3 linked regions of the Homo sapiens genome follow. The gene in region 1 interacts genetically with each later gene. Each region holds a gene or a part of one and is shown on either strand. Other genes may lie near its edges. The genes, in order: CSTF3, METAP2 and COPS4.

Region 1 (2,357 bases):
TTTAGCTCATGGAAAAAAAAATGTTCTTGAGCACTGGGCCCCTGTGAAAATATACAAGTTGAGTATCCCTAATCTGAAAATCTGAAATCCAACATGTTCCAAAATCCAAAACCTTTTCGGTGCCAACATGATGCACAAAGAAAATGCTTAGTGGAGTTTTGTGGAATTTGTACTCTTGTATTAGGGATGGTGAACTGGTAAGTATGATGCAAATATTCTGAAATCTGAACAAATCCAAAATCCTGAACACTTCTGGTCCCAAGTATTTTAGATAAGAGATACTCTATGTGAGAACAAGACAGCAGGTGGTTAAAGGAATTTCCACACTTAGGTTGCTTTCAAGAGAGACAAAAGTATTAACAGGATCTTAATCTGCCTCAGATTTACTGGGGAGCAAATGCATTCATATTTGAGGATTTCTAAAATGTTTAATTTGCCTCTTAAAAATGTTTTTAGTTAGCACCAAAAAAGACAGACCAGGAAAGAGTATGTGATTAATACATTCAGTAAATACAAGATGACTTTTCCTTGTCCTGACATTTATTTTTAAATGGTATTGGATAAATAACATAAGTAGTTATTGTAAATAAAATCTGAAAGAAGCAGAGGAAGCATGATGTTTCTGAATCCTTTTATTTTTTAAAGGACTTTTAAAATTTGAAACTACAAAACGGATTTCATACATTCTGCCATAAATAAAAACAAACAATAAGGCAGGACTCTACATAAGCAAACCAAGAACAATTGTTTTCAGAAAATGTGATAAAATGCTTTACAATCATAAGCCATCCAGTTTTTAAAATAAAACTGTTGAAAAACTCACAAATCTTCAAGCGGCACATACAAGACACCCTTGAAGAGGGAACAAAATGTGGTTCTGCCACTTTGTACTGTTCTCACATTTTTGAAAACCTAATTTTGCTTAGAGCATAGGTCTGTTCCGTATTCTAAAATTCACACAGGTTGGTTTGTTTTTTCTCAAGAACCATGTGATAGAGGCACCAATGACAATACAACTTTGTTTCCAAGAACCTTGTAACAAAGCGTTGTCTCTTTTAAACATACCACTTGAGGCAAAAGGAATCCTGGACAGGAGTTTTCTGCAGAGGCGTTTAAAACCCTACCGAATCCGCTTCTGCTGCCGTGCTCTGTAAATGTCATGAACAGGGGGGACAACGGCTCCCTTTTCTTCATCTTCATCTGAATCCTCGTTGGGCCTTTTGACGGCCTTGGTGAGTACTGCATTACTTTCCACGGGGCCGTTGCCTTCTACAGCTAGCTCTGGGGCCCCACCAGTAATGATCCTCACAGCTTCCTCAACAGCTATTAAAACAAAACAACAAAACGTAAAAACATATTCCACTATGAAAGGGTATGTATGTTCAACTGTGGATACTTTATTTCATAGCCTACTATTTTAGCAAAACATGGGATAGTACTACTGATACTAAATAATTAAAGAAAAAGACAAAAGCTGCTGTTAAAACTAATAATTTTCATAAGCCAAGCCTGATAGTGCATGTTCACATGAATAGAAAAGATAAAGTTTTATGACATTTTACTTAGTGGAATTCAATGTGAATAAGCCTTTCTCTGCCAAAGAGGGTTTGGGTAACTCCTGGGTTTCACTGCACTTCAAATTGGCTGGCTGGTTTCGAAAACTTCAGTGGCAGAGAATAATAATCTCTACTGCCTATGAGACAACAACGTGGAATGACACTCTGAAATGGAGCTTCTGTTACTTACTATTTGGTATCTTGCATCTTCGGAAAATTTCCATCAGTTCATCCACTTGTACAAAAGGACCCTATTTTTGACATGAATAAATTTTAATCCCAGTAATCTGACAAGTTAAAGTAGTAGTAACTTTATACACAATTACTATGACCCACAGAGCCAGTATCTACCATGAAAATAAGTGAACAAACCTGGAAACAGATAGGAGGAGGGAGAAGTTTCATTAAAACAACAGCTGCAGGAGGGACTGGGAACACTCCACCAGGTACAGGGTGTAAACCTGGAGCTGTGAGAAAAAGAAAAGTATGAATCAAGTGGAATGGAAGAATTTCTACACAGAGCTAAAATCAAGTGACTTGCACATAAAGATCTTCCATGTCTGCTGCTTTGTTCTGGACACTGAAAATACTTCTAGGGCTTTACCAAACCAAAGTGGGTGAGACAGCAGTCTCAATGCCGTGGCCACTGGGAGGCAGAGAAGTAGACAAGTGACTTTGTGTAAGACAACCAGGGACTGAACTAAAGTCAGTTTTTGTCAAAGAGTGTTTCTGAGTTACACAAGTCATTTGTTTAGCAATCCTGTTTCAAGTCAATTATTCAACAGTGTATTTAATCAGAAG
Region 2 (3,658 bases), on another chromosome or scaffold:
GTGAGTGGAGACTCTCATGTTGTTTTCTTGCCTCTTAGTAAATTCACACCATTCAGCATTCTTTGCATTTCCTGTTGCCCATTATGTGTTTCTACCAAGAGCAGAAGTGATTCTTCCTCTGGAACCTGACCGTGCCTTCTATATAGACAGTTACCACCAACGTAACAGTCCTCTTTCATGTCTAAATACTGAAATTTATTACCAGACTTAAACTTTTTTTTGAGACAGTCTCTCGCTCTGTTGCTCAGGCTGGGATGCAATGATGCAATCTCGGCTCACTGCAACCTTTGCCTCCTGGGTTCAAGCGATTCTGCCTCAGCCTCCTCATTAGCTGGGATTACAGGTGCCCACCACCACGCCCGGCCAAATTTTTTTTTTTGAGATGGAGTCTTGCTCTGTCACCCAGGCTGGAGTGCAGTGGCACGATCTCGGCTCACTGCAACCTTTGCCTCCCAGGTTCGAGCCATTCAAGCCATTCTCCTACCTCAGCCTCCTGAGTAGCTGAGATTACAGACGTGTGCCACCATAGTTGGCTGCTTTTTGTATTTTTAGTAGAGGCGGGGTTTTGTCATGTTGGCCAGGCTGGTCTCGAACTCCAGACCTCAGGTGATCCGCCCACCTCGGCCTCCCGAAGTGCTGGGATTACAGGCATGAGCCACCGTGCCCAACTCTTTTTTTAGACAGAGTCTGCCAGACGTGGTGGCTCACGCCTGTAATCCCAAAACTTTGGGAGGCCAAAGTGGGTGGGTCACCTGAGGTCAGGAGTTTGAGACCAGCCTGGCCAACATGGTAAAACCCCGTCTCTACTAAATACAAAAAAAAAATAGCCAGGCGTGATGGCACACACCTGTAATCTCAGCTACTCGGGAGGCTGAGGCAGGAGAATCACTTGAAGCCAGGAGGCAGAGGTTGCAGTGAGTCAAGATTGCACCATTGCACTCCAGCCTGGGCGACAGAGTGAGACTTCGTCTGGGGAAAAAAATAAAAAAGAGTCTTCCTCTGTTGTCCAGGCTGGAGTGCAGTGGCACGGTTGCAGCCCAACCCCCTTGCTCAAGCACTCGGTGGAGTGCGCTCAGCTTCCCGAGTAGCTGGGACTACAGATGTACAGTATCATACCTGGCTAATTTTTGTATTTTTTAAAAAATATTTATTTTTATTTCTAATATATATGCTTTTTTTTTTTTTTTTTTGAGACGCAATCTCACTCTGTCGCCCAGGCTAGAGTGCAGTGGCGCAATCTTGGTTCACGGCAACCTCCGCTTCCCGGGTTCAAGCGATTCTTCTGCCTCAGCCTCTCAAGTAGCTGGGATTACAGGCATGCGCCACTACACCCAGCTAATTTATTTTTGTATTTTTAGTAGAGACGGGGTTTCACTATATTTGCCAGGATGGTCTCAATCTCTTGACCTCATGATCCGCCCGCCTCGGCTTCCCACAGTGCTGGGATTACAGGCATGAGTCACCGTGCCCAGCCTATATATGTTTTTTGATATCAAGATATTCTTCCATTTCATTGTTCTTCAAGGTTTCATTTCCCTTCCTCCTGCCTAGACCCTGTGTTGGCAGCTTTAATTCTTCTCTCATCTATATCTTTAACTTCTTTGTTATTTGATTTTCAGATATTCTCTTTAAGATCTCTAATCCTGTGAACACAAGTGCAAAGCAGAATACTTATTTATTTATTTATTTATTTATTTATTTATTGAGACAGAGTCTTACTCGTTCTGTCACCCAGGCTGGAGAGCAGTGGTGCAGTCTTGGATCACTATAAGCTCAGCCTCCCGAGTAGTTGGGATTACGGGTGTGTGTCATCATGCTGGCTAATTTTTGGACTTTTTTTTTTAGTGGAGATGGGGCTTCATCATGTTGGCCAGATCAGGCGATCTGCCCACCTTGGCCTCCTAAAGTGCTGGGATTACAGGCGTGAGCCACTGTACCCGGCCCAGAATACTCTTGATGTTACTCACACTTAGGTAGGAGGTGTGGGATAATGAAGAAAACACACTTTGGGGTTCAGGCAGTTTTTACTTGGAGTCTTAGATAAATCTGTAACCTGAATACCCAAGTTTCTTGACTGTAGTAGGGTTAATGGTATCTAGTTTATTTTGAGAAATGTAAATTGTGTGATAGTGCCTGGAATTTATTAAGTATTCAACAAATATTTGTCATTCTGTCCCCTTCTCACCCCAATTCTGGGATTAGTGCCACAAATACAGTGCTTATTCAGGCTCTTCCAAATCGCTCTTCGCATCCAGGAAATTACTTACCTGATGAGAAAAATAGCCAAACAAGCCTAACACTCTTTAACATTTTTTCCACGTTGCATAAAGAACATGGCAAAATACCAGGATTGGCAAATGCCGGGATTTGCCCATCTTCTCCCTATTCTTATGTTTTTATCTCTGTTCTTCAAGGAAGAAATATTCTGTCTTCTATACAGTATTTTCTTTAAAATTTTTTTAAATTGTTAGCTCAAACACTGCGTTAAGGATCTTCTTTTCAGTGTTAATCCTCCACCTCCTTTGAGATACCACCTTATTACGCCTTTTCTCTACATACTCAGCCTTTCCCCTAGTGGCTCCTCTCAGTGTGAAAGCACATGTGGAGGAGAATAAAAATCATAGCATTAGATAACCTTCCATGATTCTCATGATTTTTTTTTTTTTTTTGAGAGAGACTTTTGCTCTTGTTGCCCAGGCTGGAGTACAATGGTGCGCGATCTCGGCTCATCACAACCTCCGCCTCCCAGGTTCAAGCAGTTCTCCTGCCTCAGCCTCCCGAGTAGCTGGGATTACATGCGCCACCACGCCCAGCAATTTTTTTTTTTTTTTTTTTTTTAGTAGATGTGGTGTTTCTCCATGTTGGTCAGGCGGTCTTGAACTCCCAACCTTAGGTGATCTGCCTGCCTCGGCCTCCCAAAGTCTGGGATTACAGGCGTGAGGCACCGCACCCAGCCGATTCACATATTCTACTTTTGGCTTTTACTTACTGTTATGTGAAATTTTTACAATTTATTTTTACATTAAGACATGATTTAAATTTACTATGTTCCTTAGTAAGGGTAAACATACTTTTCTTTGTATCCTAGCCAAAGCCATAAGGAAAGCAAAAGATTTTTAAAGGCTAGAATTTAGAAGATCTCATTTCCAGTGTGCTTTTCTTTGGAAAATGTTTTGTCCAGTTCTTTAAATAGCTTAGAACCAGTTTTAGGAGTTGCTGCTTCTATTAACACTTTATGAGCTCCCCAGAAGCAAGATTCTTAACCCAAAGAAAGCTGAGATTAAGAGCATAAATGCCAAGTTAATTTGAGGAATTTATGGGACTAGAACATGGGCCTTCTGATTTCTAGGTTCACTGCTACAAATGAACAGAATCTATTTCCAAATTCGTGAGTCTTATGTCAACTTGGAGTACACACTGTAGCAGTCTGCTTGGGGGACTACCTCTAGAGTTAGTTATTTCTCTTTTTTGAGAATTTGCTGAAATTTTTGTAAATTCCAACACTAGCCAACATATACCAATGTCTTCTCTTTTTCCTTTCATTTTCTCCTAATTCTACAACTTGTTTGGTATGTGGTCTGCCTTTCAAGGTATGGTAGGTGACAGTTTGACTTAATGTTTTAGTCACTGCATAATAATTCCAGCCTGCAACATCGGG
Region 3 (3,658 bases), on another chromosome or scaffold:
TTAACTCAAAAGAGAGTAAGGCCAGGTGAAGTGGCTCACACCTGCAATCCCAGCACTTTGGGAGGCCAAGGAAGACGATCGCTTGAGGCCAGGAGTTCAAGACCAGCCTGGCCAACACGGAGAAACCCCATCTCTACTAAAAATACAAAAATTAGCCGAGTGTGATGGTGCACAACTGTAAGTCCCAGCTACACGGGAGGCTGAGGCAGGAAAATCACTTGAACCCAGGAGGTGGAGGCTGCAGTGAGCCACTGTACTCCAGCCTGTGACAGAGTGAGAGTAAAACAAAAATGGACTAGATTTGTCAAATAAGGCTTCGTAGATAATAATAGCTTTTTATATGAGTACTCAGTATACAAAGAGAAATGTGACTGATATGGAGAATGTGACAAGTGCCAAATATTTTCTTCCTTAAAAAAATTTGGCCGGGCGCAGTGGCTCACGCCTGTAATCTCAGCACTTTGGGAGGCTGAGGTGGGCGGATCACCTGAGGTCAGGAGTTCAAGACCAGCCTGCCCAACATGGTGAAACTCTGTCTCTACTAAAAACACAAAAATTAGCCGGGCGTGGTGGCGTGTGCCTGTAGTCCCAGCTACTCAGGAGGCTGAGCCAGAAGAATCGCTTGAACCCGGGAGGTGGAGATTGCAGTAAGCCAAGATCATGCCACTGCACTCCAGCCTGGGCGACAGAGTGAGATTCCATCTCAAAAAAAAAAAACAAAAAACAAAAAAAAAAAACTTATGGAGGAAAATAAGTTTTATTACTAAGGCATCATACATCTCTCCTATCCATTTATCATCAGTGAATTGAGCATCTTTAATGTATATGAACCAAATTCAGTATGTTGATTCTTAATTTCTTGGCACTTGAAAGGAATCTGGAGATAAATAAAGCATGAAAATGTACCACAGTCATCATTTAAGATCACAATGGGTGGTAAAGGTAGGTATTAACAGATCTTCCACTTACAGTAATGGTGAACTAAACGACTGGACCAACCCTCCCTCAAAAAAAAAAAAAAAAAAGCCAACATAAAAAGCTGAAAGAAATGAAAAAAAAAATGTAATTGCATAAAATCCTAACAAGAAAGGTAAAATGAGGAAAATAAGATAAACCATATATTCTGTCTAAAGGCATTTGCTGACTGTGGAAAGATGGCTGAGAGGTAGAGTGGCACTTCTTGTAGGGAGGAGAAGGTGGGCTCACTGCGAATCTGCTGGAAGCACTGAGAAGCAAGCTGCCATTTCTGGCAGACTAATAGAGCTGCACAAATGGGAATGGAAGTTCCATATTCTGCCAAAGGAGGAGACACACACTTTGGAAGTAAGGTTACAAATTCTATCCCAAGACCACCCAGGTAAACCAAAAAAATTCTGAAGCCTTGATTATACACTGTTAGCACCCTCAGGTAATGAAATTTCTCTCTAGAATCAACAAAAGCAACAGACAATCGCAACAACCAAAACGTCAAATACTGACTGGAGTTATCAGAAAGAGCATGATACAATTATGCTTACAATGTTCATGGGGATAAAGACAAGCTTTAAAGTTTCAGCAACAGACCAGGAGCCATAAAAAGTATCATTGGAAAAAAGAACCACCAGAAATTACAGAGCTAAAAAATACAACCCAACTTAGAAACTCAATGGAGTACTTAACGGCAGATTAAACACAGTTGAAGAAGTGATAAACTAGAAGGTAGGCCTGAAGAACTAATCCAGAATAAAGCATTGAAATGGAAAAGACAGAGTAAGAGGCCTAGAGGTTATAGTCAGTGGGCCTGACAGGGATTTCACCGGAGCCTAGAGGAGAAACAGAATGGGGCAGAGGCAACATTTAAAGAGATACAGGCCAAGCACAGTAGCCCACACCTGTAATCCCAACACTTTTGTAGGCCGAGGCAGGAGAATCCCTTGAGCCCAGGAGTTCGAGACCTGCCTGGGCAACATAGGGAGACCCCATCTGTACCAAAAAAAATGTTTTTAAATTAGCCAGGCATGGTGTCACGTGCCTATAGTCCCAGCTACTCAGGAGGCTAAGGCGAGAAGATTGCTTGAGCCAAGCATGTTAAGGCTGTAGTAAGCCATGATCTCTCTACTGCACTCAAGCCAGGGCAACAGAGCAAGACCCTGTCTCTAAAATAAAATAAAGAGATATAACTGAAGACATCTCAAGACTGATGAAATGATTTAATCCATTGATTCAGGAAACCCAGTGAAGCTTAACCAGGATAATGTGACAGAGTGCTTACAAAAAACGGCCACAATATAATTTCACTCCCAGTACCCATGTCCCTTTACAATACAACTTTGTAGCTCTTCATATCAAAAGGTAGAGTTTATTTCCCTACCCCTTGAATCTGGGGTTAACCAATAAAACGTGGTAGAAATGAAGTGCTAGTTCTGAGCCCAGACCTCGAGAGGCCTTGTATGTGTTTGTCTTTTGGAACCCTGCTGCTGTCACATGAACAGGCTCAGACTAACATACTGGCTAATGAGATATGTAGCCCAGTCAACTATATTGCCCCAGCCAACAAGCCAGCCAATCCACAGAAGCAGAGCTGCCTACCTGGCCTGGCTGGCAGCTAACTATAGACCCACATGGGAGCCCATGTGGAACCAAGACCACGTGGAGCAGAAAAGAACCATACAGCTGGGCCCAATCCAAACTACCAACCTACAGAATTATAAGCTAAATAAGTGACTGTTGTTTTAAGCCCTAAGTTTTGGGGTTTATTTCACAGCAAAGGGTAACTGACATAGAAAAGTAAAAACAAATCCACAGACATATCATAATGAAGCTACACAAAATTAAAGACAAAATCTTAAAAACAGGTAAGTGCTGGCCAGGCGCGGTGGCTCACGCCTGTAATCCCAGCACTTTGGGAGGCCAAGGCAGGTGGATCACAAGGTCAAAAGATCGAGACCATCCTGGCCAACATGGTGAAACCCTGTCTCTACTAAAAATACAAAAAAAAGTAGTCGGGTGTGGTGGCATGCACCTGTAGTCCCAGCTACTTGGGAGGCTGAGGCAGAAGAATCGGTTGAACCCGGGAGGCAGAGGTTGCAGTGAGCCGAGATCGCGCCACTGCACTCCAGCCTAGGCAACAAGAGTGAAACTCCATCTCAAAACAAAACAAAACAAACAAACAAACAAAAAAAACAGGTAAGTGCTAATATAATTTTTAGGAGAGAGAAATCATTGGATGGGGTTGATCTTTAAACATTCTAAGTATTTCAATTTAATAACAGTAGGAAGACAGGCATTCTAGGCAAAAATAATCACTATCTGAAGTGTAGTCAATTTTTTTTTGTGAAAATAAGGCCAAAAAGGTAGATGTGTTTGTTTAGAGTTAAGGGCTCATAGGCAAGCAGATATGGACTGTCTTCTAGCTTCACCACTAGCTGTGTGACCTCAGAGCAAGGTATTTCAACTCTGTACTTTGGTTTTCTCTTATTATAATGTAAATAATATCACTACTATCACCTACTCCTACTTGTTAAGGATTTTTAAATGTAAGTAATGTTGTGCTTCGCACAGTAAACTCTAGATGTTATTGACTTTCACTCTAGAGATGAAAACCACTAAAACTGTTGTGTTTGGGACAACAAAGAGAGAATCAGAATCTGAGTTAGAAGGGGCCTTTGAGGCTATCCTC

What was found.
Region 2: changes in CSTF3 (region 1) and METAP2 together harm fitness more than expected from each alone (negative genetic interaction), as found in Homo sapiens cells (one large-scale study listed by BioGRID).
Region 3: changes in CSTF3 (region 1) and COPS4 together harm fitness more than expected from each alone (negative genetic interaction), as found in Homo sapiens cells (one large-scale study listed by BioGRID).

What each region holds. Positions count from the first base shown.
Region 1 is NC_000011.10:33,083,967-33,086,323, forward strand, and holds the end of CSTF3 (cleavage stimulation factor subunit 3), read right to left. Parts: intron 2,024-2,357; coding exon 1,929-2,023; intron 1,808-1,928; coding exon 1,747-1,807; intron 1,324-1,746; coding exon 1,121-1,323; 3' UTR 618-1,120; downstream 1-617. UniProt on the Homo sapiens protein: One of the multiple factors required for polyadenylation and 3'-end cleavage of mammalian pre-mRNAs.
Region 2 is NC_000012.12:95,505,125-95,508,782, forward strand, and holds part of METAP2 (methionine aminopeptidase 2), read left to right. Parts: intron 1-3,658. UniProt on the Homo sapiens protein: Cotranslationally removes the N-terminal methionine from nascent proteins. The N-terminal methionine is often cleaved when the second residue in the primary sequence is small and uncharged (Met-Ala-, Cys, Gly, Pro, Ser, Thr, or Val).
Region 3 is NC_000004.12:83,038,128-83,041,785, reverse strand, and holds part of COPS4 (COP9 signalosome complex subunit 4), read right to left. Parts: intron 1-3,658. UniProt on the Homo sapiens protein: Component of the COP9 signalosome complex (CSN), a complex involved in various cellular and developmental processes.